3 separate regions of the Homo sapiens genome follow, and all the other regions are linked to region 1. Evidence: fine-mapped expression QTL. A gene starts in region 1. Each other region holds a variant in brackets. All regions are shown on one strand. Distances are from middle to middle.

Evidence for each region. PIP is the estimated chance that this variant, and not a neighbour inherited with it, causes the effect. A credible set is the group of variants that fine-mapping cannot tell apart.
Region 2: its variant is the best candidate, but not a certain one, in a credible set for the expression of LBH in whole blood (TOPMed, PIP 0.80).
Region 3: its variant is the best candidate, but not a certain one, in a credible set for the expression of LBH in whole blood (TOPMed, PIP 0.66).

What each region holds. Positions count from the first base shown.
Region 1 is chr2:30,225,867-30,236,448 of GRCh38, reverse strand. LBH (LBH regulator of Wnt signaling pathway) reads right to left here and starts at 4,915. Exons shown (of 3, transcript NM_030915.4): 1 at 4,685-4,915; 2 at 1,942-2,044. The coding sequence starts at 4,710. RefSeq lists silencers at 13-220, 3,916-3,975, 3,986-4,185, 4,576-4,665, 4,866-5,415 and 1 more and enhancers at 5,219-5,733, 5,734-6,249.
Region 2 is chr2:30,245,085-30,255,666 of GRCh38, reverse strand. The region is part of intron 2 of LBH (LBH regulator of Wnt signaling pathway); the gene reads right to left. Among named protein-coding and RNA genes, the nearest start is that of LBH, 19 kb to the right of the region's middle. The variant C/T (reference allele first, on the strand shown) is at 3,050.
Region 3 is chr2:30,256,844-30,267,425 of GRCh38, reverse strand. LBH (LBH regulator of Wnt signaling pathway) reads right to left here. Exons shown (of 3, transcript NM_030915.4): 3 at 7,398-9,993. The coding sequence ends at 9,805. Among named protein-coding and RNA genes, the nearest start is that of LBH, 31 kb to the right of the region's middle. RefSeq lists enhancers at 207-821, 822-1,436. The variant C/T (reference allele first, on the strand shown) is at 8,007.

The DNA of each region.
Region 1 (10,582 bases):
GGGCTCTGAGAACTGGGCCCTCAGTCCAGCACCACAAGGGAAGATGTGTGGATCCTTTGCTCAGGCAGTGCTGAGATGTGTCAGGCACCCAGAGGTGATTTTATTTTCCTGCTGCCCTTGCAGCCCCAGGTTGGCCTTCCTCCCCCAGCTCCTTCCTCCCTCACCACCTGCCCTGAGTCTCAGGTCCAGCAGAATGGCCTGAAGGACTCGAAGCATTGAGAAAACGGCCCTATAGGGCCTGGCCCTTTATCCTGGGATGTATTTAAAAGGAAAATATGAAAAGCACACACAAGATGAACAGATGACTGCATTTGGAAAGGTTCTGTGATGGAAATCTAAAACCCAGAACCGAAAGAGAACCTCACCTGTAACCACAAAGAGATTCATTCTGACTCAGGGGCTTGGAAACTGCTACCCAAAACCCCCTGGCTGGTGGGCCAGGAAACTTCTACCCCTCCCACCAGGTTGAGGGGCCCTCAATTGTCTTCCTCAGACCCACTCTGGGGGAGGAGGGTAGAAAAGTCAAACGTAGCAAAGAGAGTTCCCCCTTGCTCCACACACCCCCTTCAAGCTAATGGCTACTTATTTCAAGACAGGCCTGCCAATATAGACAACACAAAGGGGCCTCCTTAGCCTCCCAAGCATGTCTGAAGTTAAGTGACCCTGCCTGAACTTTTAGCTTGGTTCTATCTGATTACTTTCCCTCCATGGCACCCACCCTGGCTCCCTGGCTTTCTATTTGATTTTTTTTTTTTTTTAATTTACAAAATAAATGTCCCTGGAACAGTTCTAAGGAATGACCAGCCAGAGTCAACCTAGACCCTAGCGGAACCAAGCCATGGTGTGGACACACAATACATCAGAAGAACAAGGCTCTGGGGTTAGACAGACCCAAGTCACTGACTCAGGCTGAGCCATTTCCTCATCTGTGAACAGGGTGAGGATCCCCGCCTGGGAGCTGTGGTAAGATGTGAGCAAGGCAGCGTCTGTAGAGTGCTTGGCGTGCAGTGGGCATACCTTCATGTCTGTAGCACGGACCCATGGACCCATCACACTCCCTTTCGACTTCCCTGGGCTGGCCATCCTACACAACTTCCCTAGCTCCAAGGTCTTCCTTAAGAAGAGACTCCTCCCTCCCCCCAGTTTAACAACATAGGAACTCTCCTCCAAAACCCCAAACCAGCTCACAGCCCAGAGGGAACTGCAGGTGCTCCATTGCTCCCACCCCCAACCCAGGGGCAGTAGAGAGGCAGCAGGGCAAGCCAGAGAGAGGGCTGGGGTAAGAGTCCAGAGGGCTCACTCTGGTCCCTTTTTGTGATCCTTGTGCATTTTGGATCCACCAGACAGGATGATCTCCAAGCAAGATCCCAGCAATAGCATCCCTGAGCTAGCCTCCCTTTGGGGAAAATATCTTCCTCTCTAAGTGGTTTGAATGTTAACTCTGAATCAACAGGTCAATAATCAACCCAAGGAAGAAAGCAGCATTGGACATGGCTATCCCCACCAGACCACCCTTCTGCAGAAGCCCCCGACAGCAATGCTTCTACTACCCCAGGCATGGCTGGGAAGGAAAGTTCTGGTCTCAATCGACTAAACAAATCATTTCCTCCTTTGCTGCGGTGAATGGCAAAGTTCACAGAGCCAGTAGGGTCAATTCATCACAATGGCTAATGCTTGCTGAGCCCTTATCTGTCCCAGACACTAGGAATGCTTCCTACACATCCACTTGTCATGGTGAATCTTTACCACAATCTTAGGAGATAAGGACGATTGTTGCCCCATTTTACAGATGAAGAAACTGAGGCTTACTGGCATTAGGGGACTCTGCCACAGTCCCACAGCTCTTATATGTGGCACTGGGATGCAAAACCAAGTCTGTCCTCACCCCCAGCAAAAACCACTAGGCTCTAGAGAGTCAGAGGGGAGCCAGGACTTACTCACCTGGTAGGAAAGGCCATCCTTGCGGGGGCTGAGGCCGATCTCCTCCATGGGCTGGGTGTTCATCATCACCTCAGTCATCTTGGCCGATCTCAGATAGTCGGGGCTGCCAAGAAACCCAGACCAAAAGTCAACAAACACACGCGCTTTCACATTCCTAACTCTTCATGCATTCACTGCTGTGGGATCAGGGGACTGTCTGGAGACAGGAAGAGAGGTGTTCAAAACAGAACTTGCAGCAAAACAAGCTCACACCCTGAGGAAGCGCCTTGCAAGCCCACAGCCCCAGGGCTCAGCCGCAACAGACAAAGCCCATTGTCTGCAGACCTCTCTGGCAAACCTCTTCCCTCCTCTCCTGTACTCTAGTCCCCACTGGCACAGAGGGACCCTGAATGTTTCTTTAAATGACAGAACCAGAGAAACCAAAACAGTAGGTAGCTGAGTCCATCTGTCTATATTAAAACCAATTCAACCACATCTCCCTTCACTTCTCCAACTAAGAATAAAAATAATCCTCACATGAACTTTCCAAAGGGGAACTCTATATATTATTAATACACAATAACAATAACAGGTCAACTGGAGGGAAACAAAGTCCAATCATACAGCTTTCCTAAATTTGTCTCTCTGGTGCTCCTTTTGGCAAAATGTTCCACTTAAAGCCCCAAGGGGTCAGCTTTTCTGCAAGTTTCACATCTGCCATCCATCCCCTTTCTCTAGCCCCAGACACAGCAGCTGCATGCTCACAGCTTGAAAAACATCCCCTGGATTAAAAGCCTTAAGGATACCCGACTCTGACTGCAAAGGAAATTTCCAGAGGGGCCAAGCTGGCCCACCAATGGCTGACATGTGAAAGTGCCTTGTACTCTCTAAGCAGGATACGAATATTCCCTTATCCTTGCACAAACTCTGGGCACATACAGGATCCCGTGCACATAATGCTGAACATAAGCACCAAATACAGGTACCTGCTACACAGCACCCAATGCTTTCCACCATCGTGCCTGTGCACATGGTTTAAAACAAAAATATGGGGGAGTCTTTTGAGGGACAGTATCTAAGGAAACAGGGGTACCAGATGCCTCTTCAATTGTATGGTTACTACATAGATAAGAAATGACACTGGATTTAGAAACAGAAGCAATAGGTTCTAGGCTCTGCCCCTCAAGAACTGTGTGATCTTGAACAGGTCCTGTAACTTCTCTGAGCCACAAGTGTCCTGTTTGTCTGTTACTCTGATGCTAATAGTGCATACCTCACAGTTAGGTTAAGGGCTAATGTCTGCATAAAAGCATTGCAAGCTGCAAAGTGCTAATCGATGAAATAAACTTAAACCTTAATTTCTCATAATATTCTTAATGGGTCCAAACACCCACCTTGGCAAATTTTGAGCAGCCAAAGGCACAAAGCCTCCAACAGCCTTCAAAGCTTCACCTATAATAAGGCACCTAGCTGCTCACACACCACGGGAGAGGCAAGGGAGGGGCACCCACAAGAAGGGTACACAAGCCTCGGGGTGGGGGAACTTGAACTGTTGAGAGAGGGAAGTTCAGTCCCCTCTCTAAACACTGCCAGGCTGGGACGGATGGGGGCAGGGAGACTAACAGAAGATGCGGGGCTTTGCGGCAAGTTTAGGTTCGGGAGCTGGGCCCTGCAAAGGCAGTTTCCTCCCGGGTCTTGGAAAGGCTGCTGGCGACCTCCAAAGAAAGGAGCCAGAAGAGCGCACGCAGGGTGAAGAGTCTGACGTAGGGGCGGCTCTTCCTCGCTCGGGGCTGTGGCGCCGGCCCGAAAAGTTGAAGCGAGAAGCATGAACTTTCCGCTTCTTGGGCCAGGCCGGACCCCGCCGCGGCTTGCGCCGGTTTTCCCTTCGCTCAGCGCCTGCCGGAGACTCGGGGCCGAGCTCCCCACGTCCGCACCTGAGAGCGCGCTCCGGGGCTGCCGGCGCTCGCCCCCGGCCGCTTCTCCTCTAACCCAGAGCAGGAAGGAAGAAACTGCCAGCAAGGAAGTCCCAGCAGTCAGGGGCCTGCCTCTCTCTGCATCCCTCCCGGCTCCGATCCCCAGTCCGGGGCAAACCTCCGACGCCCCGCGCCCGGCCCGGGCTCCTTCCCCTTCAGCACGGCGAAGGCGGCTCCTCCCAGTCCCGGCCCCCACCAATGTGCGTCGGTTTTTAGGGGCGGTGGAGAGGGCAGGGGTTGAGAGGCTGCAGCGCGTGCCCTGCTGCTTGTGGCTTTAGTGGGGTTACGTGTGGGGAGAGCGTTTCCCGCCCCCCACCCCCCCGGAGCTCTGCAAACCCTGCGGCCGCACCAGCTCAGCCCCGCTGCTGCCGGCCTCGACGTTGAGACTTGCATGCAAACAAAAAGAAAAAGAGGAGGGGCCCGGGAAGAGCAGGAGCCCCCCTGCGCCAAGTGGGGCGCGCGCCTCCTGCAGCTCTCCGCATAGGGTGGTTTCATTGGGGGGGATTCACACGTGACCCCTGGCTCCCCCGCCAACCAATACAAACCCTCCGGCCGTCACTTAGGTGAGGGCTCCGAGTTCACGTCCTTTGTCTGGATGTTCTCAGCACCCCCTCCCCCCACCCCCACCTTTGCAACCTTGACGTTGACTCCTGCACGGGCTCGGGCGGCGGGTTAGCGCTGAGCGCCCGCGCCGCCGGCTGCCCTCGCACCCGGAGCCGGCACGAAGCAGGCGCCCGGGCCCGCAGCCACCGCCGCGAGACAGACGCCCGCCGCAGGCGCAGGGTACTCACCAGTGAATGGGGAAATATATAGACATGAAGTCCTAGGGCAGGCTGACACACGCCCCTGTGATTTAAAAACGGTCCCTGCGTCCCGAGTGAGGATGACACGGGCGCAGACGGGCACGGCAGGCGGCCGAGTGCGGACACCGGGCGCTCGCCGTCCGCCTTCCCAGGACAGCCCCACGGCTAGCGACGTCGGCAAGGTGGACACAACTCCCCGCTCTCCACTGAGCACTCAGCCCCACAAAGAGCCCGGGAAGCCGTATTTATAGGGGCGGGGGCGGGGCTTGGCCCCGAGAGGCCCCGCCCTCCCTCGCCCACTCCTGGAATAACGTCACCAAAATCATGAATGGCTTCAGCGCTCGCAGCTCCGGCGGGCGGCGGCTCGGGGGCGCGCTCGGCTCTGCTCCCGGGGCCGTGGTTCGCTGCGGCTGCGAGCCCGGCCCCCTCCCGCCGCTCTCCCACGCGCACACGCGCTCACTCGCACCGGCCCGGACTCCGCGTCCGCGCCGCTTCCCGCTCACAGCCCCCTCCACGCACACCCCGAACTCCAGCGCGGCGGAGGTGGGCGCAAGGAGGGCGCGGGGGCCGCTCGGGACATGACAGCTCGGCGGCTGCTCTGCGCCGGGGTAGGGCACCCGCCACTCCTCCACCCCAGCCGCCCGGCGCCAGCGCCCTCCTTCCCATCCACTGGCTGTCCCCAGCCCACCTCGGACCCCTCTGAAGCGTTTGTTCCCCATACTAGGCCTCTCTCTGGAATCCTCGCCCGCAGCCTTGCGATCAGCGAGGGGAAACAAGAGCATGGTTAAAGAAGAAGCGGTGGGAAGGTGGCAGAGACGCGGAGCCGGGGGACCGAGTGCCCACGGGGCGCGTTGGCTTGCGAAGGGCTGGTCTGCAGCCCTGAGTTCCGTGGAAGGTTTTATTTGTGGGAGCAAGGATGTGGTGTCGTCCTGGGTAGGATTTTTCCATTGGAGACACACATACGCCCGGTCTGCAGCGGGGGCAGAAGGTGTGGGCGGGCGGTGTGCACGCCGCCCCCCATCCTTGACTCCCACGTCTTCTCCGAGGAGTCGCTCATGACAGCAGAAACAAAGAGCTTTAGCCGAACGCCTCCCACACTGCCCAGGAATTGCAGCTCTGGGCGTCTGTCCAGGCAGTCAAAGCTGCGCAGCCCCCCAGAGCCACATGATGGGAGTCTCACTCGGGACCCAGCGCTGCCGCTCTGTGGCCTCCGCTTCAATCACGCCTGTAAAATGGCTTTAGAACCCTCACCTACCTGTGTATAGGGGCTGAGGAAAGGGGGCGCGGGGAGATCAAAAACTAAGCAAAATTAAATTGGCTTTGAAGTGAATCAGCTTTTTAAAAGAAAGGCAGTGAGTGTATTGAATCCGTATATATGTACTTGAAAGTGGAAACGCATAGCTTATCTCAGGCAAAAGGATGACAGAATTAATGGCGAAGGTTCGACAGGGGTAGGACCCTGAAGGAAGCCGTGAGAGAAGACCCTCATAATTTTCATCAGTCCCCGCAAAACCAGCCCAAACAAAAATTATAAGAATTGATGAGAATAATTTATTTAAAAATAACTGGGCTATTTTCAATCACTTATATGCTTATATGTACAACCTGAGTTAAAATAGTGTGCTTCCTATGAAAACACAGCTTCATGACAAGCCCCTGGCTGCCCCCTCCAACCAGAGAAATTCCCCCACCTCCCAAGCTAAACGCATTCTCTTCCTCTGGGGGTGTTGCCTGATGGAGGGGCTAAACGGGAGATGCTGCAGGGATGGGGTTATTGTTGATGTCCTGCACAGAGGGTGGGGAAGCTTCTCAGTGTCACTAGCCAGGTGTGGCACATTGTCATCTAGGCAGCCACAGGAGACGCCAATGCTTGGAGAGCTAGTTTCCAGGCTGAGACTTCCAGGCACTCAGAGGAAAATGTCTGGGCTAGACCCCGGGTGGGCAGGATGAAGCCTTCTGCCACTTCTTCCCAGTAGCAATCTCTGGTGAGGCTGGGATCAAAGACTGTTGCGCCACTTTTACACATAACAGACACACTTTATGTGTTTGTGATTATTGCCATGTGAAGCTTTCAAAACTCAGAAAGCTATTTCCCTCCCTCCCCATTTTCCCAAATATCTAAATGTCAAAATGGCCTCATTTTGGAGAAGAGGGTGGGGAGTAAGGCCTCCACCAGCTGTTATCTGGCCTCTGGAAAAATCCTCTACATTGGAGTGCATTGAGGGAATTACCTGAGGCCTACTCTTTGGGAAACTTATTAATGCCCATTTTAGCTAAAGTTCATCTCTGTCAGTAAGTTAAAATAGAAATAAGCCTGGGGTTGTGATCCCCAGTCTGCATTTTCTGTTTCTCCTCTGGAATCACAGTGACACATCCATTCATTTGAAAATATGGGAGGTGGCTGGGTGCGGTGGCTCACGCCTGGTAATCCCAGCACTTTGGGAGGCTGAGGCAGGTGGATCACCTGAGGTCAGGAGCTCAAGACCAATCTGACCAACACGGTGAAACCCCGTCTCTACTAAAAATACAAAAATTAGCTGGGCGTGGTAGTGGGTGCCTATAATCCCAGCTACTTGGGAGTCTGAGGCAGGAGAATCGCTTGAACCTGGGAGGCAGAGGTTGCAGTAGGCCGAAATTGTGCACTCCAGCCTGGGCAACAAAAGTGTGACTCCGTCTCAAAAAAATAAAATAAAATAAAATAAAATAAATAAAATAAAATATGGGAGGCGTGGGGCTAAGCTTTGATGCAACCATAACTAGCATGCCATTTCTCAGTTATACTAGTCTATATGATGCCTTGCAGGTTTTTTTTTTTTTTTTGAAGCATTTCATTGTCTTGGCTTTCAAAAGAATGTGATAAGGTTAACATAGCACAACTTATGGTCCTCAGTTCACAGATATGTAAACTGAGGCCGAAATAAATTAGGAGGCTTGCCAAAGATCACACAGCCGGAAAGTGGTTGAGCTGGGCCTGGAACTCAGAGGTTGTAGGCATACTCAGCTTCCCCTTCTGTTAACATAGCTCTGGCTGACTGCCTTTCCTTCATATCTCTAAAGATACAGAGTATTTCAACATGCACACTGACCATTTCTTCCCAATATCCTATGAGATAGGTTTCTGTCCCTACTGCCTTTGAATAAATGAAGAAACAGAAACACAAGCGAATGAAGTTACTTAGAGCCCCAGAACCTTAGAGCTGAACGAGACCTTCCAAATCACCTTGTCCCAGTCTCCTCGTTTTACAGGTGAGAAGACACCTAAGAGATTAAATGGCATGTCCAAGGTCACCAGGCTATTAAGTGGTATAGATGGAACCTAACGCAGGTCTTCAGACTGCTGGTCAGATGTTCTTTCCACTTTAACACTGCGTCTTGCACTGCATTTGCCAAGAAGTCAGCAGCAAAGGTCAAACACAACGTCTGGACTCTGTAAACCACCACAGTCCATCACCAACATTTATTGAACATCTACTAGATGCAGATCAGTGAACTAATTACCCAGTCAGAGCCTCTGCACTCCCTCCCTTCTCCCGTCTTTGTCTTTGGAGACTAAAGAGTTGAATTGCAATTCTGCTTCAATAGAATCCAGGTGTAATCAGAATTGCCTTGCTTTCTGACATTACATACATCCATTTTGCCAGCACCTTCTCTTACCTACCTAAAATACAAATTAAAAAAAAAATAAAGGTAATGAGCTTAAGATATTATTAGAGTTATCTCAGCTGCAAGGATGCTGTGTATGCAGGACAGGTAGCGAGTTCATTCATCTAGTTAAAAAAAAAGTCTCCATATAAATTCATTTAGCAGCCGGGTGCAGTGGGTCATACCTATAATCTCAGCACTTCAGGGGGCTGAGGCAGAAGGATTGCTTGAGCTCAGGAGTTTGAGACCAGCCTGGGCAACACGGTGCAACCCTGACTCTACAAAAACTAAAAAATTAGCCGGGCATGGCAGCGCACACTTGTAGTCCCAGCTTCTCAGGAGGCTGAGGTGGGAGGATCGCTTGAGCCCCCGGAGGCAGAGGTTGTAGTGAGCCATGATCACGTCACTGCACTCCAGCCTGGGCAACAGAGCAAGACCCTGTCTCAAAGAAAAAGATCATTAAGCAACACATTCCCACTTCTTATCTCCCTCTGGCTTGCAAAAAGACAGTATTGCATTTATTTTGCCTAATGATGGTGAAGCTGGTATTTTGGTTACTAATAAGGGACCTTACAAAGTAGCTATTTGACCCTGGGGAGGAAAATAGAAGAAGGGAAGGGGCCACACTTGCTGAGATACCCTGGTATTTCTTACTACACTTATGCCTGACAACAATCTTAGACAGAGGCAGATTGCCCCCACTTCATAGACAAAGAAACAGAAGCTCTGATAAGTTAACTACCTTGGCCGTGGCCACGTGGCTCTCAAATGGCTGAACCAAAATGTGACTCTGGGCAGGGTGCGGTGGCTCATGCCTATAATCCCAGCAGTTTGGGAGGCCTAGGTGGGCAGATCACTTGAGGTCAGGAGTTCGAGACCAGCCTGGCCAACATGGTAAAACGCCACCTCTACTAAAAATACAGAAATTAGCCAGGCGTTGTAGTGGGTGTCTGTAACCCCAACTACTTGGGAGGCTGAGAGGCAGAAGAATCGCTTGAACCCAGGAGACGGAGGTTGCAGTGAGCCGAGATCGCGCCACTACATTCCAGCCTGGGGGACAGAGTGAGATTCCATCTAAAAAAAAAAAAAAAAAACCCAAAATGTGACTCTGAGGCTTGCTGTTTCCAGAGCTGATGTTTTCCCCACCATACCACACTTACCATGCCTCTGTGGTTTTGTTTGTTTTCACAGCTACACTATGAACTGAATACAAAACCTCTGGTTCCAATAGCAAAGACCACTGGGATCCATCCAGGAGGGCAGGGCTGGCAGGATAAACAATTTTCTCACCCTGGGAATCTGGGAGCTTCTTAAAGATAGTCAAAGGCTTGGGGTTAAAAAAAGACAGTGAGTAGGAGAAGGGAAGTTTCTAGCCAATTTTTCGGTGAAACTCATTTGCGTACATAAGAAATCTAAAAGGCAAGAATGTGTGTGGGTTGAAGTGAGAATGAAATGAGATAATGTTATGAAAACACTTGGTAAATTGGAAAGCACTGAGCAGACGTAGGGCTTGTTTTTAAGGTATTTGAGAAAAAGAGGGGGTTTAGCAGAGCTGATTTCATCTGCTTCAGTTTTTTACTTATTGCCATCACAAACTGCCCCATTTTCCTCCTGGAGTCCCTTGACTGACATGTCTAGCTTTTAGGGAGCAGACATTAGAGGCAAGTAGCGACGCTCTGCCTGGTGGCCACTCTTGCAGTCACAGAGTCCAAGCATCTTCTCTCGCCGCCATGAGTTCCTCTGTCTTTGGTGCCTCCCAGGAAGTGTCCAGCTGGGTACTGGCCACGCAGAGAATGAATGAGGCCCGAGAATGTGAACCTCCTATCTTGGTCATCAGTGAATTAGCAGTCAACAACACAAAGCAACCCGAACCCACCAGACAAAATCCTCCAGCCTTTGACTTACTTTGCTGTAAGTTCTCAGGCAAGTGGGTTGACCTCTCTGGGTCTCAGACATAGAAAGCAATAAAAGCAGGCAATAGAAGTCTCTCTTTTAGGCCTCAGGGTCTAGTAAGGCTGAGATAAGTTGCTTCTATGAAGGGTCAAGAGAAAAGTGCTTTACGTCCTTACCATACCACTGGGGCTCTGCAGCCCACCCTAAAGCCAGTGGTCCCTCTTCCCATGTGGCAGCGCAGGAGGCGCCTTCATCTTTCAGTCCAGAATCCTCTCATTGCCCCCAAAAGAAGCCTGAGATCTGGCAGCTCATAAACTCTTGCCTTCCCACATATCAAAGAAATTCAGCCCT
Region 2 (10,582 bases), 19 kb before region 1:
CAGCCAAGTCACACTCTCACCACATCACAGGCCACGTGGGGCTTCCAGGAATCACAGGCCTCAGTGAAGCCTTCCCAATACCTGCAAACGAGTGATTATTAACCATTTATCCAATAAGACCTATTGCTGGGGATTAAGCCTTAAGCCAGCTGCACAACCAGGCATCATTAAAGACTTAACGAGGCTCATAAAAGGTATCATAATGGCAGCCAGGAGGAAAACAAGTCCAGGGAGGGGATGGGCCAGTGTGGGTCACGGAGGCAGAGGGGGACACGGACCCCGACTCTGGGCTCTGTCTTCCTGACCAGGTTGGCCCAGAAGTTCTGCCCTCAGACGGCGCTGTGCCCAGACGTGCATGTGCCGAGCGAGGAGCGCCACGTGGGCTTTTTGGGTGCGTCCTCATTTCTTGGGTGGGGCCAGAGCCCCCCATGGGCTGTGAGGACACAAGGCGCCCTCCAAGCATGAGCTCTGAGAGTGGGTGAGAGGGACCCCGATGGAGGGAAGCCCACTACAGGTCACGAAGCTCTTTCAGATGTCAGCTCGTTCAGGGCTCACTGCCACTCTAGGAATAGTAAGACCCGGGACTCTGTGGGTCACATGGCAGAGCCAGGATTCAAACCTACATCTGCTGTTTTCAGTGCCTGAGCCTTCTGGAAAATGGATTAGGCTGCTGCTGGGTCTCCACCCCATTTCACAGATGGAAAACTGAGCAGGGAGGGAGAGTAAGACTCTGGGCCTTCACTGCCCAGGCAGCTGTGAGGGCCCCAGCCCAGGAGGTGAGCTTCCCAGTCCCAATGCTTGTTTTAAACCTTCAGGATCCAAGACAGCGCCATAAGCTGTCAAGAGGAGAGGGGGACCTGCCCTGTGAAGAGCCTGGCCCTGCCTCCACCCTCTGACCTCACTGCCAGGATTGTGCCTACCTGTGCCAGGGCCACATTGTCAGGGCTGGGAGAGTGAAAACCCAATTCTAACTATGACAGCCTAAGCCAAGGAAAAGCAAAAGGCATGACAAGCAGGGCAGGCCCAGCAAAAGGAGGAGGGGGGGAGGGGGAGGAGGAGGAGGAAGAGAGGAGGAAGAGGACGAAGAGGAGGAGAGGGGTGGGAAGCATTGGATTTCACTTCAAGCTGGAAACAGGTCTTTCATTAAAATAAGGAAAAAAATCTAATGATGATGATGATGGATGAAATTTTTCCTGAGCAGAATCTCAAACCTCACAATAATTCTAGTTACCACCCCCCAACTTATCCACAGTTTTGCTTTTCTTGGTTTCAGTTACCCACGGTCAACTGCAATCCCAAGATAGGTAGGTACGGTACAATAAGATATTGTGAGACAGAGACAGAGACAGAGAGAGACCACATTCACATAGCTTTTGTTGCAGTATAGTGTTATAATTGTTCTATTTTATTGTTAGCTATCATTGTTAATCTCACATTGAGTCTAATTTATAAATTAACCTTTATCACAGGTATGGATGTATAGGATAAAACATAGCATATGTGGGTTTGGTATTATCTGTGGTTTCAGGCAACCACTGTGTGTCCTGGAACGTATCCCCCAGAGATAACGGGGACTACTGTAACCCTATTTTGTGGATAAGAAACCTGAAGCACAGAGACGGTATGTGACTTGCTCAAAGCCACGCACCTGGGAAGCAGCTGAACTGGGATCCAAACTCAGACCTGTAGGACTTCAAATGAAGCGTTCACTTGATAGCATGGGTTAAGCCACACAACCCAGGTGCTCACTATGTCCTTGACCACCATTGTATAACTCCGGTCAAGTCCTCTCAACCCCAAACACCTCAGTTTCTCCTTTTGAGACATGAGGTGACCTTCTTGTCTCACTAGATGGGTACAAGTTCTTGGCAAATATAAAGATGATAAAATACTTTGAGGACATAAGCAAAATTGAAACTATAATGTCCTCTTTGGAGCAGTTTCAAAAGAACTACAGTAAGCATCCAATCTCCAAGCAAGAGGGAGTCATATGAACACAGTAATTAAAATAATTCCAAACAGCGCCATTCATACCGAGAGCTCCACAATTAAGTCTTTTAAGACCTTGCAAGAGGTCTGAGAATTGAACTTCTGATACTGCTTAGCTGCCAGAGGACTTTGCTCCCTGAATTGCTCGAAGCAAGCACTGTTTAAATTTTTTTGTTTGTTTGTTTACAAAGCCTATTAATTGTATTTTTAAAAATTACTACAATAATCGAACCCTTCCATCAGAGATCTTATTTTATTATCAGATTATACCCATTTGGGCCTCAAAATTGTAGCTCTCTCCAAACACAAAAAGTACCCAGAACCAACAGCTTCTGGTTTCCTTACAGACAGACAGAAAGCCTTGCAAAGTGCTGCTGAGTAATTTGCCAGCACAATCTTATCTCTGACAGCTGCTTCAGAGGCTGACCCCAAGGAGGTCAACATTTTTCCACTAAGTCATGCTTTTTAATCATCTAGGCAGCAGAAAAATGAGAGGTTGCAACTGCAATTTGACGGGTGGGGTAGGCAGTGGAAAAAAGGACTTGAGTCAGACTTGCCAAGCACATGACAGGTAGGGGTTGAGGCGGCAGGCCAGGCCGGCATGCTGCCTGCCTGCAGGAACTGGCAGGGAGTAAAGAACTGCCCCTGTTCCCAAAAGAAACTGCTTCTGGTTAAACCTCTTTCCCCAAAGTGCTCCTTCTCTCTGTACTACAGAAAGGCAAAAACAAACACAAATCATTTTCCCTTCTCTCTGCAGCTCTCAGAGGCATTTCTCACCCTCAGCCCAGGGTAGGGCAGGTCTAGAAGAATCCACCCCCAGCTGTGATTCTCCCAGCCCTACACCTTCCTCCCTCTGCCAGCCCTGGACTCCACATCCAGCAGCCACATTGGGCTGCCAAAGCTGATGGCTGAAATGAATCCAATGGACACCAAGTGTGTTAGTCCATTCTCATGCTACTATGAAGAAATCCCCAAGACTGGGTAATTTATAAAGGAAAGAGGTTTTTTTTTTTTTTGAGACGGAGTCTCGCTCTGTCACCCAGGCTGGAGTGCAGTGGCA[C/T]GATCTCTGCTCACTGCAAGCTCCGCCTCCTGGGTTCACGCCATTCTCCTGCCTCAGCCTCCTGAGTAGCTTCGACGACAGGCGCCCGCCACCACGCCCGGCTAATTTTTTGTATTTTTAGTAGAGACGATGGTTCACCATGTTAGCCAGTATGGTCTCAATCTCCTGACCTCATGATCCGCCCGCCCTGGCCTCCCAAAGTGCTGGGATTACAGGCATGAGCCACTGCACCTGGCCTAAAGGAAAGAGGTTTAATTGCCTCACGGTTCCACATGGCTAGGAAGGCCTCAGGAAACTTACAATCATGGTGGAAGCGGAAGCAAACACATCCTTCTTCACAAGGTGGCAGGAGAGAGAAGTGCCGAGCAAAGGGAGAAAAGCCCCTTATAAAACCATCTGATCTTATGAGATCTCACTTACTATCATGATGAGAATGGCATGAGAGTAACCGCCCCCATGATTCAATTACCTCCTACCAGGTCCCTCCCATGAGACAAGGGGATTATGGGAACTACAATTCAAGATAAGATCTGGGTGGGGACACGGCCAAGCCATATCACCAAGTTCCATCCTTTGCAAATGGAATGAAGCCTTGACATTTACACACACCATGAATCTCCCAGGTCTTGCATTCTCCACTGTGTAGAAAAGTAAGCACCATTGTTCATCTCAGAAGCTCACCCTCAGGCCCAGGATTCTCTGCTCCAACAGCCTCTGCTGTTGGTCGGCCAAACAAACGCCCTGGGCTTCCCTGAAACATCTTGCTGCCTTCATCATCCTCATACTAAATCATCTATCCAACAAAGCAGCCACTCACCACACAGGGCCATTTAAAGTTACATTAAATTGATGTTTATATTATATCACATATAAATTTCTGTTAATAAAAATAAAATAAAAATTTTAGCCACCTTTCTTATTTTTTATTAGTTTTTTTTTTTTTTTTTTCTTGAGATAGGGTCTTGTTTTGTCACCCAGACTAGAGTGCAATGGCACAATCTCAGCTCACTGTAGCCTCAACCTTCCAGGATCAAGTGATCCTCCCACTTCAGCCTCCCAAAGTGCTGGGATTACAGGCATGAGCCACCATGCCTGGCCATGGTGATGGTGAATTTTACAGGGGACACCTCTTCGGAGGCATCCTTTGCCTGGTGGCCTCCAGTCCCAACAGGCCGTGGCATTTTGGGAACTCAAATGAATTCACTTGAAAGGTCAAGGGAGCTTCAAGGCTTCGTAGCAGGAAGAGATGGTCTGTAAGATACTGGAATTTCTGGCTGTATAGATCAGTGCTGTCCAAAAGAATGTTCTGCATATGGAAATGTTCTCTATCTGCGCTGTCCAGTACAGTAGCCACTTGCCATGTGTGACTATGGAGCACTTGAAAGGTGGCTAAAATTGGCCAGGCACGGGTGGCTCATGCCTGTAATCCTAGCACTTTGTGGGGCTGAGGTGGGAGGATTGCCTGAGCCTGGAAGGTTAAGGCTGCAATGAGCAGAGATTGTGCCATTGCACTCCAGCCTGGGTGACGAAACAAGACCCTTTCTCAAAAAAAAAAAAAAAAAAAAAATTCTACTGACAATAAAAAATAAGAATGGTGGCTAAAGTGTTATTTTTTATTTAATTTTTATTAATAGAAATTTATATTATATACTATAAATATCAATTTAATGTAACCTTAAATGGCCCTGTGTGGCGAGTGGCTGCCTCGTTGGATTGATGATTTAGTATGCGGACGATGAAGGCAGCAGGATGTTCCTGGGAATCCCAGGGCGTTTGTTTGACCGACCAACAGTGGAGGCTGTTGGACCAGAGAATCCTGGGCCTGAGGGTGAGCTTCTGGAGACCAGGAATTCCTCAGCAGGCTTCTTGCTTAGGCATAAAAGTTGCCGGTGAGCCAGTTCCCATTTCACCCTTGGAGGGGAACTGAAAGGCAACACCAGGGCTTCAAAGGCCCCAAATTTAGGGACCGGGCTATCAACTGTCTGCCTCCATGCCAGGTGACCTAAACCTGGCTGCCCCTGGGGTGGGAGAGGAGAGAGATGCCTGGCACCTGGCATGGAAAATGTGAGCGCTCCTGGTCAGAGCCACCCTCCCCTGAGTGTGCATCTCTCAGCCATCATCTGACAAACAACCCAAGCTGGCCACAAAGAGGCCGAGGGCTCTGCAAAGAGCCGAGAGATGCTAATAGGGAAAGCGGACACCAGCAGGTAGAGGAGATGAAAGGTGGTTAGCAGGACACAAAGGGCTAATGACCAGCTCTGCAAGCTGAGACCTCAGGAGCCTGGACATCTTGCTCTTTTTTGCAAAGGTGGAAAGAGGAAAGAGGAAGGCCGGGGGTGGAGAGGGAGGGGAGCGAGCCTGAGATACATAACCAGGCTAGCTCCCTAAGGCACTGTGGACAAAACCACACAGTAAGCTTCTACCCTCTCTTGTTGCAGAGAAGTAAGAACAATCAGCCCAAACCCGCTCAGGAAAATTGCTCTTCCCACAGGCAGACCACAGAGTCCGAAGGATCTGGCTTTTTCCTCGCCTCCATCTTTTATTATCGCTATGACCCTGGTCACGTCATTTTATCGCCTCTGAGCCTCAGCTGCCTCCCGAGTAAAATGAGAAAATCATTTCCACTTTACGGTATGGTTGGCAAGGTCACAGTGCTGTGCCTTGAGAGCCAGCACAGTGCCTGACAGGCTCATCGAAGCGGTGGCCTATTCTCCTCCTCTACTCCTCTATAATTTGGGTCAGTGCTAATGCTGATCTTGCAGGGCTTTGGAGAGAATCAAACACAGGTATGTGTGAACATGCCCTGTAAACTCTACCTTCCTAATGATGGTTCTTACTAGGTAAAGCTGGGGTCCCCCAGCAGCATTTAGAGTGAGGAACCAAGGGGTCAACAGCTGTGGCTTGGGACAGGAGCAAATACGCAGCACTCCTGGGCTTGTGCCCACAAATCCTAGGCCGAGTTCTTAGGAGAAATGGCTGCAACTTCATTCATCACTTCCCTCCCTGTGGCTCTGTTTCCCCAGGGCGTGGGTTAGGACCGGGGGAATGAAAACCATGCCCTTGTCACTACCCCGCCCCCAACCAGAGGCCTTCCTCTTCTTCTACCTCCTCCTTTCACTTACTCCAGGGGCCTGCCCCTCAGCTTCCCAACGTCTGGATTTCTTACTTCTCCTGGAGAACAACAATGAATTGCCTTGTGTGTTCCTTCCTTCCTACGATGGGCTGGCTTATAACAATGGGCAGATCTCTACCAGCATCCTGCTCTGCCAAGGGATGAATGAACAAGCAGCAGCTAATTCAAATAAAAAACCCACCTGTTCTTTGCCCCCTAACAATGTGTGAAGGCAAGAAATTCCGTCTTTGAAATACTTGCCTCCTGCTATTTTATTATCATCATTATTATTATTTGCATTTTACTGGCTTTTCCACGTGAAATGTGGCTAATAAGAACAGAAAGAATTGTAGCAAAGGGGCAGCAGGGCTACTAACTAGATGCAGGGAAGGAAGAATATTCTCCAGTCTCTACTCAGAGACTGTCCATCTTTAAGACTCTCATCTTCCTTAAATCTCCCCTGGACTGGGGTTACAGAACATCCACCTCACTCTGTTCTGCCTTGCCCTGGTGCCTCTAATCCTATAGAGGACTTAAGCAAAGATTTGGGGCTTATAACAACTGCTAGACCTCCTTCCTTTGGATCAAAGATGCTTAAGCCTCCAGCCTTGAAACTTAAAAGAAAAGGAAATCCTTTGGATAAACACCATCTTTCATAAACATCTCTCAAACACACACCCATCCTGCGAGTCAGGAGTTCCAAATTCTAATTAATTGCACTAATTTCTACTGCTAACTCTGGGCCCAGTGGAATGAGGAGGCTTTTGGAATGTTAGAGAACTTTTTTCTCCGGGGCAGTGAGAAAAGACTTGTTATCAGGCACAGATGACTTCAAATATTCACGACTTTTTGACTGTATCATCATTACCTTCTGGAAAGAAGACTGGCCCCCTGTCACCTCCAGGCATCTGTGGGTGGCACATCCGTCTCTCTATCCTCCCTCCACTAGTACTACCCAATGTCCCATGGTCACACCTCTCTCAGCTGCCATTTCTAACTATCCCCGCATTCTTTTTTTGGAAACACAAATCTTGAATATTTAGCCTGTCCCATTGCCTTCCATTTCTTGTTTGGGTTCCCTTCCTAACCCCCACCACGTAGCTTCCAAAAACATCCCTGGATGGAAACAAATCTCGAAGGCCTTCCTTGCAGCCCTGCCCCACGGCCTTTACTCCACTTTCATTCCGTCTCTACCCATTCTACAGTGCACTACCAGGACGACTCACTTTGTCCTCCACAAAAAATTTTTTTGCCCCACGCAAGACGTCTTCCTTGATAGTAGCTCCCATAAAAGAAGCTTGGAGATTTTAGTTGATCACAACTGCAGCATTGAGGCTAACAACTGAAGCAAATAGGGCTATATTCCTAGAGGTATATGCCTTTCAATGAAACCATCTACACTAACAGAGAGCTGATGGACCTGCTACCCTCTCATCAGGCATATTCTATTTAGCCTAGGGCAGCCATTCTCCAAGCTCAACTGCCAAGATCCTTTCAGTGAGGGAGCCTCCACAGAGGTAACATATTTTCATAGTAATACTAAGATGTCGTTTGCCTTTTTCAGTGTTAACACTTGCACTAAGGGTATAGAAAGCAACAGTGGAAGAAACTGCTGGCACCTTGGCGAGAATTAACATAGTGGCAGCAAACCATACTTGGCATCATCAATTGTTCGCCAGCTCACCCTCACGATTAAAACGAAAGCAAGCAAACAAAAAAAATTAATGCCCTTGATGAAGTGGTAAAAAGTAATTTATATTAAATATTGACTCAACCACATGTCACTTATGTATGTGGCACAGTGAAATGGACAGTTAGCCTACAACATTTCTGCTGCTGACGGAAGTACAACAGCTGTCTTGAGGAAAGCAGTCATGTGACAGAGTTGCCAGCTGAACTAGCCGCTCATGCCACGGAGCACCATTCTTACTTGAAAGAATGACCAACAAATTGTAGTTATTCCAACTTGGGTATTTGGCAGGCATTTTCTCAAAAATGGACAAAGTGACAAAGTGAGCCTGTCACTTCAAGGAAAATAACAGTATTTGTCACCAATGATAAAAATAGAGCTTTCAAGTGAAAATTAGAATTTTGAAAAAGTTGTATCAGCCACCATGAGCCTGACAGCTTCCTAATGCTTGAGATCAGTAGAGACATTAAGAAATGTGATTTTATGATATTGTATAATGAAATGAGTCAACATTTTGAAGACCTGCATAACTTGGTGAACCTATATTTTCCAAATGATCAGAACATTACACTAAGCATGGGTAAAAGATGCACTCAAAGTGCAAAATAGACTAATGAATTTTAGTGTACAAAAAGGTCATTGATAAGATGTCAGATATCACATTGCCACTAACATTTAAGAAACTACCACTTGTTGGCTGGGCACAGTGTTTCATGTCTATAATCCCAGCACTTTGGGAGGCTGAGGTGGGAGGACTGCTGGAGGCCGGGATTTCAAGACAAGCCTGGGCAACATAGTGAGACCCCATCTCTACAATTAAAAAAAAATAGCCAGGCATGGTGGCACATATCTATAGTCATAGGGACTTGGGGAGGCTGAGGCAGGAGGATCACTTGAGTCCAGGAGTTGGAGGCTGCAGTGAGCTATGACCATGCCACTGCACTCTAGCCTGGGTGACAGAGCAAAACGCTGAAAGAAAGAAAGAAAGGAGGGAGGGAGGGAGGGAGGGAGTGAGTGAGGAAGGAAAGAAAAAGAAAGAAAGAAAGAGAAAGAAGGAAGGAAAAAAGAGAAAGAGAGAAAGAAAGAGGAAAAAAACTAGTGAAGTACCAAAGAAACAAATCTGCATAGGCTAGATATCCTTCATTGACTTCAACCAACAACCAACACATACTGCAACAGATTGACTGGAGAAGCACATGAGAGTCTAGCCTAGTCTTCTATTAAACTAGACTTTAAACAGCCATGCAAAAACGTAAAACAATGCCTCTCCTCTCATTAAACATTTTCTGTTTTGGAAAATATATTTTTTACTAAAAACTGTTATTTACATTAACATGTAACAGTTTTGTTACTCTAAATGAATAAGTAAAAATTTTGAAAATTGTTCTAATTTCTGAAACAGTAAATATCAAAAGACATAATCAAAACAAAAGACATAATCATGAACAGAAGCTCTTTGGGTAGTCCTAAAATAAGTTTTAAGAGTGTGAAAGGGACCGAGACCAAAAGGTTTGAGAATAGTTGGCCTGGAGAAATAATCCTCAGTAAGATGACTATGGGCCAGGTGCAGTGGCTCACGCCTATAATCCCAGCACTTTAGGAGGTAAGGCGGGCAGATCACTTGAGGTCAAGAGTTTGAGACCAGCCTGGCCAACATGGCAAAACCTCATTTCTACTAAAAACACAAAAATTAGCCAGGCGTGGTGGTGCACGCCTGTGATTCCAGCTACTTGGGAGGCTGAGGCATGAGAATCCCTTGAACCCGGAAGGCGGAGGTTGCAGTGAGCTGGGATGGCACCACTGCATCCTGGGTGACGGAGTGAGATTGTGTCTCAAGGGAAAAAAAAAAAAAAAAGACTATGTAAGTCAAGGTTGAAAAACAACATATTTTAAAACTGGTAAAGATTTGAGGGGAACATAAAAGGTGCCTTCTGATATCTGAAAGGCTGATAGGTAGGGAAAGAACAGGTTTTTGTTGTTGCTTTTGTTTTTTAAACTCCAACGGGCACATCTTAGGATTAGGATGGTGGATTTCATGTCATTATTCGACTTTTAAAAAACACAATAAGGATTAGTTCTCTCACTTATACACATGGAAATCAGGCCCAAATAGGTGATGTGAGTTGCCTGAGATGACATAGGTAGCAGCAAAGCCAAGATTAGAAACCAGTTATCCGGATTCTTAAGTCTGTAATCCCTCTGTGCTGAGAGGTTCTGGACTCTGTGTCACAGTGTCCAAAGAATATCTAGGTAACCCGATGTCAGGCTACTGTAGAGGACATTCCTTATCAAGGTGATAGGACCAAGCTCAAAGCTGCCCTCCCCTCTGAGGACCTACAGTGCCATCGCTTTGATTCTGAAGAAAGTGTACGTATCCATGGTTTCCGAACTTCTAGTGTAGTCCCCAGTGGAATTCTGAACAACTCTGTCTCCTTTCACATGTTCTAAAATCCCTGATATATTATACATATTGACATTTTAAAATAAAATATACATACCACTCTTTTAAATGTACTAAATGGATTACAAATACCATAAGAATTTGACGGCAACCATGACCTATTAAAAAACTCAAGAACAAGCTCTTAAGTCAAATCTTGTATTCTTACTTTCTCTATGTAAAACTGTATTTCCATTCTACTTCTCCACAGAATTTTTTCTTGATGTAATATATTTTTATGTTTGAAAGTTTTTAGTCATTAGCTTTTCATAATTCTCTACAATAAAAAGA
Region 3 (10,582 bases), 31 kb before region 1:
TCAAGTAAATGATAGAGTTGGATATTTGTCCCCGCCCAAATCCCATGTTGAAATGTAATCCCCAGTGTTGGAGGCGGGGCCTAGTGGGAGGTCACAGGGGCGGATCCCTAATGGCTTGGTGCTGTCCTCGCCATAGTGAGTGAGTTCCTGCAAGATCAGGTTAAGTGTGTGGCACCTCTCCCATCCCCTTGCTTTCTCTCGCTTCTCTTTCACCACGTGACGTGCAAGCTTCTGCTTTGCCTTCTGCCAAGAGTGAAAGCTCCCTGAGGCCTCCACAGAAGCCAAGCAGATATCAGCACCATGCCTGTACAGCCTGCAGAACCGTGAGCCAATTAAAATTTCGTTGCTTTATAAATTATCCAGTCTCAGGTATTTCTTTACAGCAATGCAAGAATGGCCTAATACGGTAACATCTGATGTAGCTCTGCCTTCCACACCCTTCACTGGTGTGTGGGAGCATGTACCAGCTGGCAGTGCTGGGGAACCATGGGGAGCCTGTGTCTTTGGTCTGGAGAGAAAGGTTTGGAGAACAGCGGGAAGTGCTTTTGGGTCAGCACAGGGCCTGGGGTCATAGCCTACCGTAGCCAAAGGAGAGGCTTGTAAGGCTGCTGGGGCTTTCTGCACAGGCCCTGCCTGGGACAATCCTTTGGGTAAGAACTGCTGGGGCCTTCTTTTAAGATGAGAGTCCCCCTGGGAGAGGTGGTGCATTCAGACCTGAAGGTCTTGGCATGAGTGATTTTTTAAATACCACCTTGTGCAAGAGATCGGGGGAGGAAAAACTCTGCAGGCAAGTGGCCCCATTGCTGGCGCCAGCCCAAGTGACCTTGGGCAGGAAAAGTGCCCTCTAATTAGCAATCAGGAAATCAAGGCACAGCATGGCGCCAGGCAGCATGACCCCAGCTGTAGCCTGGTGACACTGCAGCCCTCTAGACGGCATGCCCTTGCCCCTGCACGGTAGGGCTGGGACCCTGTGGGTTATTTTTTACCTGATGTCACTATTGTTGGTTGTCTGCTAGCTGCTGCAGTGGGTGCCAGCAGTGACAAACATGCAGTGAGGGTTTCCTGTGTAGCTTCCGCCTCCTTCCCCATGCACAGTTCCTCCCTCCTCCAGGGCTCGGCAGCGATTTGAAGGCTACCCAGAGCCTAATCCTGGCCTTGGAGGAGACCAAGGACATAGTGGCCTTCCCAGGCTTGTCCCCTACACACTGACCACACAGTCTCCACCCTTGGGTGTGCCAGCCCCATTTCCTCTGCAGAGAGATGTATTAAGCTACTTTTTCTAGTTGCCTCTCTCCCACTGCCATGACTCCACTAAGTAAAAGTACTGCTTTCTAGAAAGCCAGATTCCCCAGATCAGTGGCTCTCAAACTGTTTTGACTGTGACCCACAGAAAGAAAAATATTTTTTTTCATGACCAAGTACACACATTTATCCACATGTAGGGATGAAACAAAAAAAATTCAGGGAATAACATTTATTCTTCCTATATCTGCTGTACTCTGATTTTTCCTCTTCTATTGTCGTCTTTTCTATTTGTTTTCTTTCTTTTTTAAAAAATTCTGGTTGCAGCCCACAAATGGATTACTTTCACAACCCCATAATGAGTCATGATTTAGCTTGAAAAATACTGTGCCAGATAACTTTCCAGAATGATTTCTCTTTTCCAAATGGAGGACGGGCACTAGAGTTTATTGAGTCCCTGTGAATTAGGCACTGTCCTGGTTTTGAGTGATATCCATCTTCTTGAAAAGGAGACTGAGGCTCAGGCAGGCTGAGCCCATTTCCTTCTAGCATAGAAGTGGAGGATCAGGGATTCCAGAGGTGTGCTGCTGCAGGCTTGCACTGGCTCCCATCTCATCCAGTCCCACAAAATCAGCCATGGTGGGAGCATTTACACCATGGAAATTGGCAAACACTATGAATCAGGGCCTTTTTTTTTTTTTTTTTTTTTTTAAATCTCAGAGGGCTGGTTGTTACACATTTACCAGCACACCATTTGTTCTAATTCTACTGTTTTCCAAAGTCAGTATATTTTGAAGTCCTCTGACCTCAGCTTCCTCATCTGTAAAGTAACATTAAAAATGTCCATTTTGTAGGAAAAATTTATATTCATTGAGCCCATTCTGGTAAGTATGGGGGAACAATGACTGGAAGGAAACCAAAATGCAAATAACTGATATGTTACCATGATGGGATTTGAAAGATGAAGTCCCTAAATTTCACCATCTTTTATAATTTCCATCATTGCTAAATGTACTTTGTGCTAAATATACTTTTCATTATATATACGAAAACCCACACTTTGCAAGAAGTGTGATGAGAATTAGAAGAAATGGAGGTAAACCAGTGCTCTGCAATTGGCAGCCGCCAATAATAGAAAAGTGTGAATTCACAGTTTTCTGACTGAAAACGGCAAAGGAAATATTGCAAATGAATTGCATGTCAAAGTAGGACCTTTTATCCAGGTAAACAGAGAGAAGGGAGTAGTCTAATGAATATTCTGATTCAAGACTATACTGATGATCATATCACACACAAATCACTAATTTTTGAAATTCTAGAAGAAGGGATCTATAGCCTCAAATTTATCTAGTCCTAGGTCAGTCATGGCTCCCTCCGTCTGAGAGATACCTCTAGCTAGTGGCGCCAAGAGAAGACTGATCCTTAGGAAGCTGTGGGCTCCAACTGCTGGATGGTGGCTTTAGCCTGACTGCAACCCCTTCCATTCACTCCCTCATCCCTGTTCTCTGAGGCCATGCGGGAAAAGTCTATCATCATCATTATCACAGTTGTGATGATAAAGGCTGCATTTGCTTCCTATTGTAGCTGTTAGCAAATTACCACAAACCTAGTGGTTTACAACAAATTTATTATCTTACAGTTCTGGAGGTCAGAAGTCCAAAATAGCTGTTACTAGGATAAAATCAAAGTGTTGGCAGGGCTCCATTCCTCTGGAGGCTCTAGGGAGAATCATGGCCTTGCCTTTTGCCGTTTCTAGAGGTGCCCGCATTCCTTGACTGGCAGCCTCTTTCTCTGTCTTCAAAGCCAGCAGCATTTCATCTTCACATCTCTCTGACTCACTCTCCTGCCCCCTTCTTTCATTATGGGGACCTTTGTGATTAGATTGGGCTCAAATATAATCCAGGATCTCCCCAAGCCAAGGTCAGCTGATTGGCAAACTTCATTCCCCTTTGCCATGTAACATTACATATTCACAGTTCCTCAGATGAGGACATGGACATCTGTGGGGGTGGAAGACATTATTCTGTCTCCCACAATGGCTAACATTTCTTTCTTTTTTTTTTTTTTTTGAGATGGAGTCTCACTCTGTCGCCCAGGCTGGAGTGCAGTGGCATGATCTCGGCTCATTGCAAGCTCTGCCTCCCGGGTTCTCGCCATTCTCCTGCCTCAGCCTCCCGAGTAGCTGGGACTACAGGCACCTGCCACCCCGCCCGGCTAATTTTTTGTATTTTTAGTAGAGATGGGGTTTCACCGCGTTAGCCAGGATGGTCTCGATCTTCTGACCTCGTGATCCGCCCACCTCGGCCTCCCAAAGTGCTGAGATTACAGGCGTGAGCCACTGTGCCCAGCCAACATTTCTTTTTCTTTTCTTTTTTCTTTTTTTTTTGAGATGGAGTTTCATTCTTGTTGCCCAGGCTGGAGTGCAATGACACGATCTTGGCTCACCACAACCTCCGCCTCCCGGGTTCAAGTGATTCTCCTGCCTCAGCCTCCCGAGTAGCTGGGATTACAGGCATGCACCACCACACCTGGCTAATTTTGTATTTTTAGTAGAGATGGGGTTTCTCCATGTTGGTCAGGCTGGTCTGGAACTCCTGACCTCAGGTGATCCGCCCGGCTCAGCCTCTCAAAGTGCTGGGATTAGAGACTTGAGCCATCGTGGCCGGCCTCACAATGGTTAACATTTCTTGAGCACTTATTATGTGTCTAGCAAAGTTCCAAGCATGTTACTTGTAATATGCATTTAGGTGTCGCCACAACCCTATGAGTTAGGTACTCGTTGTACAAATGAGGAAAGTGAGGCATAGAAAAGAAAAGTAACTTGCTCAAGGTCACACAACTAGTAAGAGGAAGGGCTCAGCTACAGATCCAGGGGTCTGATCTCGGAGCCAATGCTCTTAGCGACAATCACCCTTCAGTAATTTAAGGACAGATGTACAGACTGAATTCTACCTAATCTAATCCTCCTCTGATGATCCAGAAGTCCTTTCCGGATGTGACAGTGCCTCAGGTCCCTCAACATCGATTGCCGTAGGCCACCAGTTGGGCAACTTTAAATGGGCTGACCAATGGATTTCAGGGGCTGGGATGCCTGGTGAGCCTGTGTCCTTCCCTGAAGGCTTCTCACAATGGGCACCAGTGATTCTGAAACTCACCTTCATGAGGACCCATGAGGCACTGCTCTGTGGTGTTTGCTCTCAGCTTTCTCTTTTTCTCTACTCCAGACATACTAGCTTCATAGACATTCCTCAAAAAGATGGAGACAATCTCTACCCCAGGGCCTTTGCACTTGCTGTCTCCTCACCTAGAATCTCTTCCCAGTCTAGTCAAAGCTCAACTGTCATTTCAAAGAGTTTTCTGCCCAAGGATCCTCTCTTTAAAGAGGAGTCAGGCAGAGGTATAGACCCTCTCTGATGAGAGACCTCCCTCTCTTCCCTCTCCAATCTTTGGTGGGCAGAGGCATTACAGTTCCCTTCTCCTTGCCTTTCCCCTCTCAAGGTGATGAAGAAAAGGAGGCAGACAGAAGGAGTTGAATCTTGTCTTCACTTTGAAGCTACCTTTGTATCTGGTGTCCACAAAGGACCCAAAGCAAAAAGCAGCAGAGAGAAGGCAGAGTTAGTTCCTTAGCAACTAGGCCCTCAAAAGAGAGACAGAAAATATCCTGACTTGTGGAACACCTACTGGGTGCTCAATCTGCACACCCCTATGCGGGAGTTATTAGTCTTATATCCATTTTACAGACAAGAACACTGAGGATCCTAGACATTAACAAAATGGCCCCACAGCACCTATGGAGGGGCTGCACAGGACTCGAATGCAAGTCAGCTCGAATAACACAGCAAAGTCAGCCAGGTGTCACCCAATCCTTCTCCTTCAGGGAAGAGGAGGCAACTTGGGGTGAAGCAGGAGGGTATTGAAGCAACTGGCTAACCATGAAAAAGAATAACGAAACTTTTTTCCAAACAAATAATTATTTTGTTTAAAAGTCACATGGAGGCAGTGGGAGACAGAAGTGAAGACTCATCTTTCATCACCAGGGGCTATTTTCCTATGGATATCCAATTGTTCCAGTACCACTTGTTGAAAAGACTTCCTTCCTCCACTGAGCTGCCTTGGCACCTTTGTCAAAAATCTATTAACCACACATCTGTGGGTCTATTTCTGGACTCTATTCTGTTCCACTGATCTATTTGTCAATCTTGATGCCAACACCACACTGTTTTGATGACTGTAGCTTTGTATTAAGTTTTTGAAACTGAGAACTGAGAGTCCTCCAACTTTAGTTTCCTTTTTCAAAGTTGTTTTGGCTAGTCTGGGTTCTTTCCATTTCCATAGGAGTTTCAGAATTAGATCATCAATGTCTACAAAACAGCTTGCTGAGGTTTTGATTGTGTTGAGTCTATAGATCAATTTGGAGAGAATTGACATTTTAACATTGAGTCTTCAGATCCATGAACATGGTAGAGCTTTCATTGATGTAGGGATTCTTCGATTTCTCTCAGCAGTGTTTTGCAGTTTTCATTGTTTTGGAGGTTTTGCATATTTTGCATCAGAGTTACTCCTAAATAGTTTATATTTTTTTATGTTAATGTAAATTGCATTTTAAATGTCAAGGTTCTGTTATTTTTTTTTTTTTTTTGAGTTCTGGGATACATGTGCAGAATGTGCAGGTCTGTTACATAGGTATACATGTGCCATGGTGGTTTGCTGCACCTGTCAACCCGTCATCTAGGTTTTAAGCCCTGCATGCATTAGGTATTTGTCCTAATGCTCTCCTTCCCCTTACCCCCCACCCCCCGACAGGCCCCAGTGTGTGATGTTCCCCTCCCTGTGTCCATGTGTTCTTTGTTCAACTCCCACTTATGAGTGAGAACATGCAGTGTTTGTTTTTTTTGTCGGTGTTACCAACATATAGAAATGCAGTCATTTTGAATATTGAGCTTTGATCCTGCAACCATGTTAAACTCATTTATTAGTTCTAGTAGCTTTTTTGTGTAGATTTCATAGGATTTCCTACACAGATGATGTCATCTGCAAATAAAGACAGTTTTCTGCAGGGGTGTGTTCAAGGAGGCTGCATTCTAATAAATTCCTCTTCAGGCTGCTGGAGAAAAATAAAGGGGCAATCCATATGAGGAGGGTAAAGTCCGGCCAGTTATCCTTGGGGCAGCAGATCCATAGATCTAGTTGTTTCACTAAGGCTAGTGTTAAAATGGGTCATTATTCTGTAAATCCTGGTAGACACCTTCAGCACAAACCACTGGATTCTCTACACTTACCAAGGTTAAGGAACCCGGAGGAGGGCTGGGTGAAGGCAAAAATAGCCTTGGGTTAGAAAAATGCCCCCAAATCCCTTCTACAAACCACCATTCTCTCACTCTGACCTCCACAAAGCCTCCTTCCTGGTCTCTAGGTTTTTCATCTTGCCCCCTCCAATCCCATCTCCATTGAGCCAGGTTGTATTAAAATGTGAAACAGACCATGCTAGGTCCTTCCCTTAGAATAAAATCCAAACTCCTAGCCAGGACTGAGTAGCCCTCTTGCATGCTTTCCTCTTCTACCACTCCACCCGCCAAGCCCTTGCCAAGCTGTTCTCCCTGTTGGAATCATTTTCCAATGCCCCCAACTCCCCTCTGCTCCCTGCCACCTAGTACCTGGCTAACTTCTCCTTGTCACTGCTTCCAAAGACCTTCCTGACCCTCCCAACTGATGTTCACACTCAGGGCATCCCAGTTTGATCCTGCCTTGCACTCACCATATTCGTCATTTAATTTTTCACCAAGGCAGGGCCATGAGAACCAGGGCCATTGCCATTTGTGACCTTGACCTCTTACTAATGCCTGCCAAGCAGTAGGTGCTCAGTAAATGCTTTGCATGATAGCCTGAGCTTGCCACATGCCCACCCACTCACCCTCCAGCCCCTGTGAATGACCTTCAGATATGTCTTGGGTTTTTCTTCCTTTAGAAGGGTAGTTCACACCTTGGCTGTGGGTTAAATCTCCCCAGTGAATTCTCCCCAGACAAGCCATCAGGTGAGCTACATAAGGAGCCTCTCTTGGGACTCCCCCAGCTCAGCCTCCTGCAGGACTTCTTCTTGCTCCTGAGCTCACTCCATTCCAACGGAACAGGAAGGGAAAAAGGAAACCAGACCAGAGTGGAAAGCATTTTCAAACTTTATTTACAACTGTCACAGTGACAAAAAGTAGTTTGGAAAAAAAAAAATGCTAGTTTCTCCCTGAGCCTCAAAAAAGAACAGATAGAAGTTACAGGAGGTTCATCTCACAACAGGCATTTTTACTGAAATACTAGGAATTTTTTCAATACAATCAGTTAGAAATACACACAAATTACTTGAAAAAAAAAAAAAGAGGAGGCCAGATAGGAGCTCAGCCACTTGTCCAAGAGCAGCTGGGTCCCCCCAGCAGGCTCCACCGCTGAGGGTCCTGACATTAGCTGTCAGCCCCTGGCCTGCTCAGACTGCAAACGGTCATACAAAGTGGTCTAGGGACCAGCAAAAATAATAAACCACCCCCATAAACAGACACATACACAAAGTAGATTTGTTACGCAGTTTACAAGCATGTTCCCATCACACAGCAAGACCAGGACAGGTGATTCAGGGTAGCAGATAAGGGAAGACACCAAAACACAGGAATTGAAAAGGCAAGACCCCCGTCCACAAGGGGAGGCGAGGGAATGAGAGTATGGATGAACCACTCTCTGCAGCCAAAACAGAACGAAGCGGGGAGCAAGAGAGAGGAAAG[C/T]CCCTCTCGGTGCAGGCTGCCGGCCTCTCCCACTTCTGCGAGGAGTTGGAAGAAGTTATTGCCATTGATGTGTGTCACACAGGCAGACAACAGAGGGAGGAAGCAAGGGGTGCCGGCGACCATTGGCTTCCCAGAACGGAATTCCGCGGACTGCTGTGTCCACAGCGCACCCTCGTCCTCCTGCCCCGGCATCCCCAGAGCCACAATGACCTTGAGGTATTAAATACAGCTATATACACACGTCCAGAACTGAGGGTCAACCTGGACTGACTGGAGACCTGAGGGGACATGCTGCGTGCCTTGGTTGGCCGAGTTTAGCTCAAGGAAGGCTCTGAGTCCACCTCTTGGCCACACGGTACTGCTCTCGGCGGACTGAAGCATTTGTCCTGCAACCTGCTGCTTCAGATGGCTCTTAGCTACAATAAGAAATCCTAAGTCCAAAGGCCAACTTTCTCATACAACTGGTGCCCTTGCAGGAAGCAGTGGGAGGTGGGGAGGGATGAGGACCACTGTTGAGTAAGGACAGCAGAGGTCCCTTGCCATGCCTCCCTTCTGCCCTTGTCCGGGAACAACATGGGGAGAAGCCAGGGATCTCATGACATCCTTTAGTCTCAAACTCGATCCCAAGGTTGCCACGACAGCCTTGTCCCCACCATGCAAGTCACCTCCCCAACAAGACACATAAAAAGCCACGTCTGCTCTCCACTAGGCTCCCACAAGAAAAACAGACCAAGATCCCCCATGGGGCGTGAGTACTGCAGCTGGGCAGACTGGCGGGAATCCATAGGTGAGCTGGGGACCCATGTACCCATGGCTGCTGGGGCTGGGGCAGGGAAGGTGGCGGTGAGGAGAAGGAAGGGCCAGCCTGGAAGACCACGCCCACTCCATCTCGGGAGCAAGTCTTGGAAGGGCAGCAGTTAAGGGAGAGACCTTCGTGCTGAGTGTCCACCCTGGGGCTTCCAACAAGGGCAGGAAGTGCTCTCACTACTCCTAAAAAGTGCTGGGAAGCAAAATGGATATATCAGGGAGAAAAGCTGAAAAGCACTGCCTCTTAAAAACCGATCACACTGGCTATGTGAGCCTACCACAGCTGGGAGCAGAGAGGCCATGGAGTAGAATGGGGTGACCTTTCCTTTCCTGCACTTCACCTCCAGCTGGCTTTGCAGGCAGCCAATTGCTCCTGCTCTCCTTTACTCTCCTCCCTGTCATATAGACCAACACACCTGAAATGAAAGCAAAGGGTGGGGTGGGTGAAACTGGAGAGAGAGATGAAGACTTTGTTTTCTGATGTCCCAGCAGCCAGAGTGAATGTCTGCTGAGCGCATCCTGGCTGCAGTTCTCTGCTCAATGTTTTCTTAAAAACATGTATTTTTTCTTTTGCCTCATGTTTGTTTTCTTACCCCAAATGTTCCTTGCTTGCTTTGCACATGCCCCACCTCCCACCCACCAAGACCCATTGGAATCCCACCACTGCCTCTACTAGGCTGCCTGAGTTCAGATAATGATCTCAAAAACAGCACTCGCTCCCCTCACCCACTAACCCCCTGGCTCTAAGCAGCTTCCTTTCTCAGAGGGCCTTGCAAATTGTCAGAGGGCTCCACTGCTCGGCAAATTTCAAAAAAAAAAAAAGGCAAGAAAAGAAAAGAAAACCAACTCGGTGATCTGCAGGTGCAAAACAGAAGCCTCGTTTGACATTTTCAGAACAATTGCGGCTCACTCTCTTCTTCCGTCATGATGGGAAAAACACAGTTCAGGAACAGATGCTGGCTGGTATGACCCATGGGAGTCCACAGGGACTCTACTGCTCTTTATTTTCTTTCGCTGTCTCTTCGCAGTTATCTTGCTCATCCTCCTGGACCAGGAACTCCTCAGGGGGCCACCGGAGCTCCCCGCTCTCCACCTCCCCTTCTGTGGGTTCCACCACTATGGAGGGCAGACGGTCCTTCAGTTTGCAGCAGCGGTCAAAATCTGACGGGTCTGGGAAGATCTGAAAGAAAAGCAGAGCAGGTGCCTGGTCACGTAGATATTTGAAAAGAGAAATTCCATTCCTTCTTTGCACATCCATGTGGCATACTGGGTGCATGCCATAGGCCAGGGACTGTGCTTTGCACTCGGGAGGCTGTGGAGTATATAAGGTGGGAGCCACGGGAGAATATTCTGGGGCAACATAGGAAACTGTCCCTCAGTCAGACTTCCATTCCAATCCTGAAGCTGAAAGTTTGGGGGCAGTGCCGCTGAGTTTAAAGGTTGATGTGATTCTGTTTGGATTCTGTATTTTATTTGCAGATAAAATCATCCCAAATCATGTTATCCACAGTAAGTCTGGTCTCTCTCTGCAGGAAGTATTTTACTCCAGCAGTACAAAGAATACAACAGGTGCCACAGCATTAAGTACCTCCCGGAATAATTATTGGCACTAAGTGAGCAGGTTACCAGGTGCTATACATATATCACTTCCAACCCACACAGTCATGCTGAAAAACAGGTGTTGCTAATGCTAGCTTAAAGAATCTCAGGCTTGGGAGAGTAGGTGGTCCAAGACCAGACAGCCTAGAAATGAGTGAGGGATGGGATGA